Linked DNA regions of Homo sapiens. The protein of the gene in region 1 purifies or fractionates together with the protein of each later gene. This does not show direct contact. Each region holds a gene or a part of one and is shown on either strand. Other genes may lie near its edges.

Region 1 (4,419 bases):
TGCTGAGCCTCTTTTCTACTCCATGGAATGCCCCTCAATATCCTTCTGTCCCCTCCCTCCATTACTCAGCTTCCTCCAGGTGCCCTGCCCAGTCCTATCCTCCAGCCTCCCATCATAGCGCAGATGGAAAGATTGAGGCCTGGGGAGACATTGGCTGACTCAAGAGCCAATTCCAAGGATTGGGGGAAGTTTGAAGGAGGGCTCCCTACTGAGCCTCAGCTGCTGTGGGGAAGGCCCTGCCCTGTTCTCCCTGCCTCAGTCCCAGGCCTTACCTGAGCTGGGGGGGTCCAAGGAGCCATAGAAGAATTCCCATTTGGCTCTAGCGATTCTCTGGGCATGAGAGGAGACTTCCCGGGGGGAGGACCAGGTATCCCCCTGAGCCAACGAGGGAGACACAGGCACCCAGAGATAAAGCCAGACATACAAGGACACAAGAATATGGGACAGAAACAGAAATTAAAACATGCATCGACAGAGATGGAGGTTCAGAGACACAGAGACAAACACAGAGGGCAAGAGAGAGGCAGATTTAGAACAGATTAAAGGATTCAGAGTGAACAGCAGACAAGCCCATGTCTGACAGGAGGCTGAGCCTTGCCCCTTCACTGGGGGCCCAGGGAGCCCAGGGGAAGTTGCATACCTGGTTCAGGAATCCAGTGTCAGCAGGTCCTCCGAAGAGTGTGGCCAGGCGCTCAGGGGGGCCCCCCAGCCCATTGGGGAGAGAGGAGTAAAGGCCATCTGCTCCAACCTGGGGTGGGGCTGGCGGCCCATGTACAAGGTTCCGGCTGCCAGGTAGGGCCGAGCCTCCTCTGGCGGGGAGTGGGTCTGATGTGGATGCTTCCAGCCGTAACTTCCGGTTGGAGCCAGGCCCAAGGGCTGGGGTGGGCCTGGGAGGAGAAACCCCACCCAGATCCCAGCTCCGACTCAAGCCCCCTGGAGCAGGTAGCCCATTCAGTGGCCTCACACTGGCCTTCTCCACAAAGCGGAAGATGACCACAGAGCTCTGGGCCCCGGGTGGGGGCTGCCCAGTGGGTGAAGAGGGTGCCCAGGGTGAGGGAGCAACACGGGGTGAGGGGGGGCCACGCAGAGGTGTACAGGGTGCTGTCACACGTCCCAGTTCCCGGCCTCGAGGACCTGGACCTGCCACTCGCCGTAGCAAGGAGCCTGTGCTGCCATACATGCTGGCTGGGGGGCTCTGGGGCACCGGGCCTTCGGGGAGCCAGCGGCGTGGGCATCGTGGTGGGGAGATGGCACAGTCGCCTTCCGAGCAGAAGCGCATGGCACCCTGGGCCATGCTGGGGCCGGGGGTCAGGCTGGGGGGGCAGGGATGGCGAGGCCAGGCGGGGAGTAAGGGGGCTGCATGCTCTTCAGACAGGCCTGTAAGAGAGGAAGGGGAGCATGGGGTGAACTGCCAAGGAGTTAGATGGATAGGACAGCAGAGATAGGGAAGGGAAAGTTGGCTAGGGCCTCTGAGTATCAGGGACCTAGCACACCCTGGTAATATGGGATCATTGATCCCACGCCTGGGGACTACTTCCATAGAGGCCTGACGAGAAAAGACTTATACACCCAGTGGGCCCCTGGCTCCTTTCCTTCTGCCTGAGGCCCTGAGCATCACCCTGGGAGGAGAGAGGAAGCAACTTCAAAGTTGAGTGAGCCCGGAGTTCTTATGGCACTTTGGAGCTACTTCTAGAATAGGGGAAGTTGGTACCCCACCCTCTGGAAAAGGGGTGTCAGCCAGCTGTCACCATCATACAGCCCTGTGACCCCTATAGTCTCTCTTATGGAGGCCCCTCACTCAGGGAAGGGAAACTCAGGCCTCCTGGAAGGAGAGGGAAGAGGAACAGGTGTTATATAGGGATGCTGAAGGGCTGAGAGGCACAGCATGGAAGTGGGGAGAAAAGCCTGAGCAGAGGCTCCTACCCCCAATATATACATACTGAGTGGGAAAGGGACATTCTTCTTTTTTTTTTTTTTTTTTGAGATGGAGTTTCGCCCCTGCTGCCCAGGCTGGAGTGGAATGGCGCTATCTCAGCTCACTGCAACCTCCGCCTCCCAAGTTCAAGTGATTCTCCTGCCTCAGACTCCTGAATAGCTTGGATTACAGGCGCTCAGCACTATGCCTGGCTAATTTTTGTATTTTTAGTAGAGATGGAGTTTCACCATGTTGTCCAGGCTAGTTTCAAACTCCTGACCTCAGGGGATCCACCCACTTTGGCCTCCCAAAGTGTTGGGATTACAGGCGTGAGCCACCGCACCCGGCCAGGGACATTCTTTTCTTCATACAGGTACAGACAGGCACCTACACACACACAAACACACACACACACACACACACACACACACGCACACACATACATAAGGACAAATATGTCAGTACACAGTTAAACACATTCATAGGCAACACCCTCTGGCACACACACAGACACACACACACACACACTGCTCAAAGACACACCCTCATGCACTCTCACAGTCATAACAAGTATGTGTGTAATGAAAAGGCACATGCTTGTTTTACACACACACCATCATCAAACAGGAACACACAAAGAGGTACCCAAATATATACACAAGCTGTCATTCTCCAGTGCACACAGAGGTCCAGGTGTATCAGACACTCACAGAGACCTACTGCTCACAGTCACATACACATACAGATGTACACATACAGATGTACACACTCAAGCAGGGACACACACCGTCCCCTCCCCCCCACCTACTGGGGTCTCTTGAGGGGAATCTGCACCCATATTCCTCTCCTCTCCCTCTCTCCCCAGGGGTAAGACAGATCCCGCCCAGGAGAGACCATAACCAGGTAAAGGGGCCTCTGGTGGCAATGCAGGGGAGGGGCAGAGGTCAGGAGTAGCAACCCTGCCAGGCAGGTTCCGGAAGCTCAACGGGGTCCCAGCGCATACCCGGTGCAGCCCCAACTCAATGCCACCTCAGTACTCACCGCTGCTCGCCCAGAGCTGAGACCGAGGAGAGACAGAGGAGAGGCTGGGCCCAGCTGAGCTGTGAAGGCAGCGCGGCTCCCGTTTGCTCCAGGCCCGCCCGCCTCTCAGTCCCTCCCCCTACCCCCTACGCGCCGCTCAGGCAACGCTAATCCCCCCCACCCCCCGCCCTCTCCCAGGGCCCAGAGCCCCGGAGGCTGCCAGCCCCCCTTGTCGCTAGGTCCCCGCTGGGCTCTCCCGCCAACCTAAGACCCGCCCCAGACAAGGAGGAGGGCGCATGGAACCCCTGGTTCTATTCCCCAGACCCTCACGTGCCCCACCCCACTTGTGTCCACGTCTCTCTCGCCCACCGCCCCTTGAGCCACACGTAAGGCCCGGCTGCACACGCGTGTCCCGCTCCAGACCCCACGCGTGTCCCTAGGAGGCTGCCACATGACCTGTTACATGCCACACGCGCTCCCGCCCCCACGAGCACGCGGCCGCGCCAAGCACACGGTATGGGTGTAGACTGGACCCGCCCCCTAAATCCAGGAGACCATCAACTATGGAAAGGAGATCTAGGGAACACCGTCTTGAACCCGCCAGGGGTTTTGAGTCTCGGACCCAGGAGATCCAACCCTGACCACCCTCCCAGGATGCAGCAGGGGGATGTTAAATCAGACTTCAGGAAGAACTTCCTTGCTGCCTGAGTTAGGTGTCGTCACGCCTGCCCAGGGGTAAGAGGTTAGACGGGATGAACTAGGGACCGGAAGACGTGGGGGACCGGCAACCCTTGTGCCCTTGGCCAGGGTAGAAGGGGGCCCTGCTATTTTAAGAAAGAGCCGCTGGAGTTACTATGGCAACTACTCTCTTTGGGAGGGCCAGGGCGGGCAGATGGTGACCTCGGAAGGAAGAAGGGGTCTGTTCGGGCAGTCAGGGGGCGCGAGGACGTGCGAGGCGGGGGCGCGCGGGGCTCACCGCGGGGAGGGGCGGCGCGGACTCCGCGTGGTGCTGAAGGGGACAGCGCCAGATTTGTCGCACTGCGCAGGCGCAGAGGCGCGAACAAAGAGGGGAGGGGGACGAGGCGCGCGGCCGGAGGTGGTGCGCGCTCACGTGGCTCTATCTTTGCAGGGGTCTGTCCTCCCAGCTACCCCCTCCCTAAGCAGGCTGAGGAAGAAGAGATAGCAAGCCCTCACCTAACTTGACCCCTTTCTTGTCTCTCCCCGCTGCTAGCTTCTCCCTTCTCGCTGCCTTGCGGGGTGGGGAAACGTGGAAGGAATTCTGGGAAAACCAGATGTCTGGGTTCTCTATTCCCGTCTGGCTTGATTCTGGACAAGGGGCTTCCTCTCCAGGGCCTCGGTTTCCCCATCTTTAAAATGGACTGATAGCATAGACCTGCCCACCTTTCAGAGGTGCCCGAAGCCTTGACGAGATAACAGATGAGAAGTGGTTTTCGTTGTGATGAGCCAGCTGAAGCGGTTGCACC
Region 2 (3,812 bases), on another chromosome or scaffold:
CTATGTATAAAGGTTAACAACAGAGCTGTATAGTTAATCCAATTTGGGATTCTCGGCACTGCAACATGGACATTTATTTTTGTTTTTAAAGCCCAAATTCATGACCACCTAGGATGTGTTAACTCATTTCATCAGTATGCCTAGGTCCTTTTACTACATGTTAGATGAGAAATCAGACAGATTTTTACATATCGGTAATGTAACAAATCAAAGGTGATTGTTGAACAACTTCCTATAATTTTATTTTTTACATATCGGTAATGTAACAAATCAAAGGTGATTGTTGAACAACTTCCTATAATTTTATCAGTAACAGCTATTCACACAAAATAGTGTTTGGGTCTGAGAGCAGCTCTTTCTTTAATGTTACTCCATTCGGCAGAACAAGAGTAAACGTTCACGGTTTACTGTAGTCAGTTATTGCCACAGATTTAATTACCAACAATCGCACATTTTACCTTCTATTGCTATTTCACACTTCACTAGGATTAAGTCTGCAGAGATCTTAACATAACTTAAAAGGCATTACAAAAGTTTTCCTTTGAAAAATGTGACTGCCTCCCGTTCCAACCAGGAAATTTGACTTTAAAATTTGTTGCTTCACAAACTTGTATTTTCCTCAACCCAATACAGAGGAAACAGATTCCCTCCACCTTCTGAGGGAGAAAGCAATCCTAACCTCCTTATAAAATGGCTTCTGTCTCTTCCAAGATGTACCCTTTGAGCTCCCTATTTTCCCTCTACAACATCCAATCAACATTTCTACTAATATTAACAGAATATTAGTAGAATAACTCCCCTTAAAGAAAAATTAATATGAATGCTGGAATCAAAACCTTCCTTAGAGAATCTTGTTAATTTCTTTTCAAGTGTAAGTGTGCCTGGATCATAAAGAAAAATCTGTTCCTTTTTTCTGCTAAGTTTAGCATAGCACGCAGCCTCACAACTGCAAAGGCTGTTTCAGGTCCTAAAAAATTCATGGGTAATAAAAATCGTAACTGTTTTTAATAGGCACTTCTGAAAACTGAACATAAGCCATTTCTCCTAAAGTAGAGCTGAGATGGTTTTCTTTTTTAATGAAAAAGATTCTATCAAATTTATTTATATTAAAATGGCTACTAAATTAGTCTTCTGGTTCTCCTTTCTAAACTTACTTTAGAATATGTGAATAGATAAACCTGCAATATTTTCACTGTTCAGCAGGGTTTTAATTTGTGTCAGATTTGCCATATGAAGAAATAGCATATAGGGGTAAGGATGGGACATTATATGGAGATCCAGACGATGAATCTACGTAGTTCAATGCAAAAAACTTATTCCGAAGGCTTTGTTATACAGTCAGAGCCACAGTTTTGATTTTTATGAGGGATGTTCCCACTTTGTTCTTCTGATATAAACTATAAGTACTTTGTTTCAACAACAACAAAAAAGGGAACTGTATCCAAATAAATCCTGACATTCAGAAACATATTCAACACTTGGAAGCTAAAAGAGTAGCAAAAAATAAAACCTGTTGGTCCTTAAAGCAGTCTCATAAACACCATATTTTGCTATTTTTAGGGAGCTGCTGTTATTGAGGTTACTTAGACCAAGGCTTTCACTCAATGGTTCTGAGTCACCATCCTAGATGGCACTGACCTCTAGGTTAATTCAGGCAATCAACATACCCACTCCAGTGAACCCTACTGAGGAGCAGTGGGAAGCGTGCTCTTTTCCAGATGTGTAGAAATTAACTTCCCATACAGCTTAAATTGGCTACAGCACTTCCAGCCTTCCAAGCCCCTTCTTGGTCTAAAACTGTATAGCTTTCAGTACAAATGCATATCCTTCATATTAAAAATGTTCTAACTGCAATTCCTGAAATTCTGTATTTAATTATGGTGGTTTTCCTCACGTTATTGTATAAGTCAATCACAAACACCCATTTAGTCATCACCTGTGCTCTACAGAGTATTAAAAATTCACTGAGCCCTGTACCATGGAGAAAAATGTATGGTAAAAAGATGAGAGGGTTAAACTAGCCTCTACACAATAAAAAGTAATAAAAATATAGAATGGTTTTTCTTTTCTTTAAACTTTCATACTTTAAGCATGACTGTTACCATTCTCAAATACATCCAGTACAGAACTGTAATACACTGGTTCAATGTGTGATGCAACATCTTACATTAACACTTCCTATCCTGGAATGCATTTATAATCAGTTGGCTCAAAGAGTTACACACAATTTTTTTAAGATCCTGATTTTATCTGCCACAGATAAAAACATTATATATTCCTATGTTTCTATACATTTATTCATTATTGTCTGGTCTAATTTCCAGCAGGAGGGTAATAAATAAATTCATTTACTCAGCCAATATTTATTGAGAGCATTCTACGAGTTAGATACTGTGCTTGAAGCTGGGATTTAATAGTGAGCAAAACAGACACAACCTCTACTCTCATATGTTTGCAGTGTACAACAGGAAGAAAATCTGTGCTCATATATAAAATTCATTTCAGAAGACCAAGACCATTTAAGGTCTTCCATTTAAGACTGGCCTGTCGCGACCAGCCTGACTAACATGTTGAAACCCCAGCTCTACTAAATGCAAAAAAAATAGCCGGGCGTGGTGGTGCATGCCTGTAATCCAAGCTACCTGGGAGGCTGAGACAGGAGAATCGCTTGTACCTGGGAGGCGGAGGTTGCAGTGAAGTGAGGTCGCGCCATTGCACTCCAGCTTGGGCAACAAGAGCAAAACTCCATCTCAAAAAAAAAAAAAAAAAGACTGGCCTAAACTTTGCCTGTTTCAATAGCGATAATTCAATCAATTAAAGGGGTTTACTAAGTCTTCCTATTTGATAATTAAGATCTAAAGAGTAAAAGACTTCAAAAACGTGTAAAATAAGAACAGGTTAACAGGAAAAAAATGTTTCTTCTAGGAACTGAAAAAAATTTCAGGATAACTATATGTAACATGAAGCAGGCACTCAAGGCCACTTGTATTACACAGACTTACAAATTATATTAAATGAGGTTATCTATGTACCACCAACAGAAATATTTAGTGAATATTCATGAAAATTAATCAATTAAAGAAAATATGTGCTTTATACCTACAAAATATATAAAAACATTAACCAAGTTAAAATGAAGTATGCTCTTGTATATCTACATAGAATACAAAGAGTAAGTTTTGAGTGTCAAACACTAACATAAATGAATTCAAAGAATGAATAAGTTAAAAGACAACAAGAAAATAATTCAAAATTTAATGTAATATTCTTATAGTGGTAGATTTCAGGGTTCACGTTTCTAAAGTTAAAATAAAAATATATAATATATAAGCATACGGAATAAATTTGGAAGACTGGCATAGTTGCCGAATATAAATCAACATAGCCCAAATTTTACTGCCATACTTTCATCTAGTCAGGTACCCACTAATTGTCTTTTTAAATGTCTCCATATTATTAATACACAAAAGTAAATAATTACATGAGCAAATGCAAGGGTACCCACTTTTATCCCTGTCAAACAAATCCTCTTCCATTAAAATGGTATCAAGCCTTGAACTAAAATTTACTTTGAAAACAATTTTACATTGATTTTCATTTCAAAATACTTATTCCTCCATAAACTAGTTAAAAATATTAGTAGATCTTTAAACTGTGAATGGATACATCTTATAATCTCCTCTAGATAGGTTTGTTTAAATGATAGAAGGAACCAGAACATTCAGTGTACTCATCAAAGCAGCGAATCAGGAATTCCTCAAATGAAATCCCTCCCTAATATCTTCCTTGTTGAAATCAACCGTCCTGGATTC

What was found.
Region 2: the proteins of PSD (region 1) and GNAQ purify together in Homo sapiens (affinity purification with western blotting, with the first as the bait; one study listed by BioGRID). This does not show direct contact.

The regions. Positions count from the first base shown.
Region 1 is NC_000010.11:102,415,745-102,420,163, forward strand, and holds the start of PSD (PH and SEC7 domain-containing protein 1), read right to left. Parts: upstream 3,042-4,419; 5' UTR 2,957-3,041; intron 1,378-2,956; 5' UTR 1,295-1,377; coding exon 641-1,294; intron 376-640; coding exon 273-375; intron 1-272. UniProt on the Homo sapiens protein: Guanine nucleotide exchange factor for ARF6. Induces cytoskeletal remodeling.
Region 2 is NC_000009.12:78,025,000-78,028,811, forward strand, and holds part of GNAQ (guanine nucleotide-binding protein G(q) subunit alpha), read right to left. Parts: intron 1-3,812.